Regions from separate parts of the Homo sapiens genome. Here region 2 is linked to region 1. A link means that fine-mapping ties the variant in region 1 to the expression of a gene that starts in the linked region. Tissue or cell type: whole blood. Region 1 holds a variant in brackets; the other region holds the start of a gene. All regions are shown on one strand. Distances are from middle to middle.

Region 1 (2,500 bases):
ACAGGCCCCACCACCACTGCTACAGGCCCAAAGTGCATCTATTCCATGCACCCCTTTGCCTGCTGGCCCCTCCCAAGACCACCTCTGAGGCCGCTCCTGTGGGAGAGTGCCCACAGCACAGCCTCCACGGCCCTGCCTGAGTGTTTTATTGGCAGCCCAGGAGTAGTTCACCACCCCCATCACAGCCAGTGCTTGACCCCTAGGGGCCAGGGGAAAAATCCACAGTTCTGGTCCCAACTCCCCAGGACTCAAGCACACCACCCAGGGATATCAAGTTGATATCTGTGGCCTGAGCTCGAGTAGGGGAACACAAGGAAGAATATGGCATAGGTTTGTATGCCAGCAAGGGAGCTGGTCACTCCTCTTTTTTTCTTTCCTTTTTTTTTTTTTTTTTGAGACGGAGTCTCGCTCTGTCATTCAGGCTAGAGTGCAGTGGCACAATCTCAGCTCACTGCAACCTCCACCTCCCAGGTTTGAGCAGTTCTCCTGCCTCAGCCTCCCAAGTAGCTGGGATTACAGGTGGCTGTCATCATGCCCAGCTAATTTTTGTGTTTTTAGTAGAGACAGGGTTTCACCATGTTGACCAGGCTGGTCTCGAATTCCTGACCTCAGGCGATCCACCTGCCTCGGCCTCCCAAAGTGCTGGGATTACAGGCATGAGCCACTGCGCCCAGCCCACCCCTCTTTTTCCAGGATGAGCATGGCCTAACAGCCACCACTTTTCCCTTACTGAGTTCCATAGCCCAGAATGCCTGGGCTGGCTCAGTGATCTGGACAAAAATGGCTTGGGACAAGCCTAGCTGGTTGGGCCTGCTACTTGGGCAGAGACTGGAGGGAGACCCACCAGGTCAGGGAACATGAGCTGGGCAGGCCCCACAACCATCCGCTGGGCTGAGAAGCCTAGGCAGCAGGTGCCATATTGGTTGTACACTGGCAGTGCCACTAACCTGTCCAGGGAGTCTCCACCTTTGAACAACTGCATCACCAAACCACCTGCAGACATACTCCACAACTCACTCTAACTTTGGCAAGCACAGGGGATAGGCAGTTACCTAAGGAGTAAATGGTCTTCTAGAGACAGTCTTTGGTGCAAAGCACCCCTAAGAAAGGAGGGAGCGCACTCCACCAAAGCCCCACTTGGGAAAAAGGAAATGGGGGTGTGATGCCAGCCACTAAAAGAGACACCACCAAGGCCTAGGAATGGACTTAAAGAGGGAGCGTCTCTCATTTTCCACCCTCACCCACATTCCCATTGGAGCCCTTCCTGTTGGGGCCTGGTAAGTGTGTGTACTTCAGTAAGCTGCTTTTCTGTGATTCTCCATTGGACCCACCCTGCTGAAAGTAACTGTGAGTTGGAGGAGCATGCTTCTCTGTTGCCTCCACCCCCACTGAGGGCTATTGCAGCTAAGAGCCTATGTGCTGGCTCTTTTAAGCCAGGACTACAGCCTGAATTACAATACCAAACAAAAATAACATTGCTACAAGCAATGCCTGTCAAACA[C/T]ACTGCACAAACCTCTATGTAACCAAAGAACCCATATAGAGCCTTGCCCCTCTGAAAGCACCCAGAAACAAAGCCAATTGATTGTACACAACATACACCACAGTCATATCCTCCAGGAAAAAAAAGAATAAAATGTCAAAAAACTCCATCCAAACAAGCAAATTCAAAAAGATAAAGAGGCATCAATTCCTTCAGATAAGAAGAAATCAGCACAAGAACTTCAGCAATACAAAAAGCCAGAGTGCTTTGTTACCTCCAAAGGATCACACTAGTTCCCTAGCAATGGATCCTATTCAGATTGAAATGTCTGAAATAATAGATACAGAATTCAGAATATGTATGACAAGGAAACTCAATGAGATCCAAGAGAAAGTTGAAATCCAATGCAAAGAAGCCAGAGAAATAATCCAAGGTTTGAAAGATGATACAGCTATATTAAGAAAGAACCAAACAGAGCTTCTGAAATTGAAAATCTCACTACGGGAGTATCAAAATGAAACTGGAAGTCTTAACAACAGATTAGACCAAGCAGAAGAATGAATTTCAGAGCTCAAAGTTTGGTCCTTTGAATCAACCCAGTCAGAAAAAAATAAAGAAAAGAGAATTTTTTAAAAAATGAGCAAAGGCTCTGAGAAATATGAGATTATGTAAAGTGACTAAATCTACCATTTATTATCATTCCTTGGAGAGAAAAGAAAGTATTATTCACAATAGCAAAGACTTGGAACCAACCCAAATGTCCAACAATGATAGACTGGATTAAGAAAATGTGGCACATATTCACCATGGAATACTATGCAGCCATAAAACATGATGAGTTCATGTCCTTTGTAGGGACATGGATGAAATTGGAAATCATCATTCTCAGTAAACTATCGCAAGAACAAAAAACCAAACACCCCATATTCTCACTCATAGGTGGGAATTGAACAATGAGATCACATGGACACAGGAAGGGGAATATCACACTCTGGGGACTGTGGTGGGGTGGGGGGAGGG
Region 2 (2,744 bases), 81 kb after region 1:
TTGAAACCATGCCTGGTGCAGACTCCCCTCTCCAGCTGCCGCGCCTCCTGCCTTGGTAGAGGGCCGTCCGCAGCCCCGCGACGCCTTACAGAGGCGAACACCGTGCGTCTTCCCAGCCCGGAGCTCCAGGATCGGCTCTATTTGGCCGTCCTCTGCTTTGCTGCAGTTGGGATGAGGAATAAAATTGCGAATGGCCAGGGGTGGAGGCAGACCGGGGAGCTGCGCAGGTGTCATCAAAGGTGGGCCTCTAAATTCCAGCCCCCACTCCCTCAACCCACCCCCAACCCCCCCCACCCCCGCGTCGCGGGCGCACCAGAAGGATAAGCCTGGCATGGCCCTCTCCAGAGCCAGGGACGCACAGATATCAAACCCACCGGAACAAATGCGCGAAATTCAACCTATGCCGCACTCAGAAGAGAGGGACTCGAGAACCACAGAAAATTCTGAGTGTAGGAAAACTGATCAGAGAAGGAAATATTCATCTCGAAAGAGGTCCAGCCTCGGAGACGCAAGACCTGTCCGCTATAGAGCTGTGTTGACTCGGGCAGGTCACTGAGCCTCCCTTGCCTGGGTTTCCCTCACCCACAAAACGTTGATGCGAACATCTAAAGCGCCCGGCTGGACACGCAAGGCTCGGACAGTGGTCACTCCGCGAACGCACTCTGTGACCTGGAGCACACAGGTCCCCCGCTGAGTGTCAGTTTCCCAGATCGGTAAAAACAAGGGAAATGGCTTCAACTCCCTAAAGTCCCTTCTAACTCAGGCACTGAACATATGAAGGTTAAGCCAAGCAGCTTCAGGGCGCTGTTAATATTTTGATAAGAGCAGGTGAAATTAAACTCTTAAGGAAGAGAGGGAAGAAGAAACTTCAAATAAATGTGCCCAAGTTCCTGGTCCGGTACTCCCTGGCGGATCCGTCCCCCGAAAGCTCGCGAAAATGGCTGGCGAGACCCCAGAGGCTCTCTCGGACGCCCTTGGGCTGGCGGAGGGCAAAGGCCAGGGCACTGAGTCGCTTGGAGCCTGCGGGCTGCGCCCCCGCGGGAAAGGGGAACCCGAGGGCACGGAGAGGAGAGCGAGCAAGGAGCGCCGCGGTGCTAGGTGAAAGCCCAGCCGCGGAAGTCGGCTCGGGGTCCGAAAGCGCTGCTTCGCGGGGTTCGGAGGGAAACCATCCCAAGGAGGTGCAGAGAGGCCGGCTCTCCAGCACCCGACGCGCGCCTTACTTGGGGCTTGAGCTCGCAGTTGGCGGTGCCGGGCGCCCCGCGCCGCGAAGCTGCGCCCGTGGGCAGGAGGCAGAGGGTCTGCAGCAGGAACCAGCTCCAGGGACTCATCCTCCTCAAGGCGGCTCCGAGGCCCGGAACGCGGAGGGAAGGAGTAGGGCAGAGGTGGCCGCCCGCCCTGGCTAGCCGGGGCCGCGGGGCGCCTCCGGGCGGGGCTGGGGTGAGCCCGGCAGCAGCGGCCACGTGGGGCCGGGCCTCGACCTCCCTCCCCCCACCCCACCCCCGCAGGTCAGCCCCGCGCCTAGGCGGCAGCGGAGTCCCGAACCGCGTTTCTCCCGCCCAAACCCTGCCGGGGCCGCCGCCCACCTCGTGTGACCGCAAGAGGGGTAAAGTGAAGTTCCAGCGCTGTCCTAAATTCAACCTAAAATCGCATTGGTTCCTGCGTTTACGTCTGTGCTTATGCTGCCGATTGTGAGGGGAGGGTGCCTCTTGATTGAAAGAGGCAGACAAAATAAACAAATGAAAGGCTATCTATAAAGGAAAGTTCATTTAAACAAAGGAAATCTCACGGAAGTTTTGAATGTAAAAGAGAGAGGGGAATGGTCAGTGTGTGCATCCACTGAAAATCCAGGACCACAAAAGCTGGCACTCCATTAAGAGCCCTCTTAATGGATTTTTAGGAATAATATTAAGGATGTTAACACCGAACTCAGAGGATTGCCGCAAGGATTAAAAGAGGAAATTTATGAGAAACACCTTGATTGGCACACATAGCAAGCCTGCAAACTGCAGTCGCTCCCTTTCGGCTCCAAAACCCCACTGAGGATTTTTCACAGCATTGGTCCATCAGGAAGAAAAAAAAATTATGAAAGCAAGTAGCTGTGCCCCGCCTGCCGCACCTCCTACCCATGCCTGAGCGCACTTTACCACCACCTTTTAAAGTCCAGACGTCTGCGCCATTAACTTCGGAGTGGTGTTCGCAGGAGCATTTGTCGCAGTGGTCTTTAATTGCTTTAAGTCGCTGTCCATTTTGAGAATCTGATAACTGGACGATCTCCCAGGGAAAAAGAAAAGGGGGGGGGCAGATTTGCATACAATGCGGGGAGAGGTTTTCTGAAGCCCATTTCCAACTTTCCCGTAAAGAACCCCTGGCTTTGAAGAGCCAAGTCTTTCGAGATTTAACTCCACCAACATTTAGAGTTCAGATGTTTTTGTAAAATCGCTTTTTTCTAAGTTTGAGTGGGGATTTGCTTTCTGGAATTGACTGTCTCCTGTCTTCAGATGACTGCCCCGTGTCAGCCCGGCGGCAATCGTTAGTCTCCGGGCCAACCCAGGACGATGCTTTTTGGCGTTTTCAGGCACCAGCGCTGCCACCTGCTGGCAAAAACTTTCTCTTTCGGTTGTGAGGGGGAAAAGCAAAAAGCATCAAGAACGTAAGTTGCCCTGAGCTAAGATCGAACCACTGCACTCCAGCCTGGGCCACAAAGTGAGACCCTGTCTCTTATTTAAAATAAAACAAAACAAAAC

The links. PIP is the estimated chance that this variant, and not a neighbour inherited with it, causes the effect.
Region 2: TRABD2A starts here. The variant in region 1 is fine-mapped to the expression of TRABD2A in whole blood (INTERVAL, PIP above 0.99).

The regions. Positions count from the first base shown.
Region 1 is chr2:84,798,612-84,801,111 of GRCh38, forward strand. All of the region lies in intron 70 of DNAH6 (dynein axonemal heavy chain 6), which reads left to right. Among named protein-coding and RNA genes, the nearest start is that of TRABD2A, 81 kb to the right of the region's middle. The variant C/T (reference allele first, on the strand shown) is at 1,502.
Region 2 is chr2:84,879,712-84,882,455 of GRCh38, forward strand. It overlaps TRABD2A (TraB domain containing 2A), which reads right to left and starts at 1,373. Exons shown (of 7, transcript NM_001277053.2): 1 at 1,221-1,373. The coding sequence starts at 1,328. RefSeq lists enhancers at 615-1,117, 1,118-1,618 and a silencer at 1,348-1,477.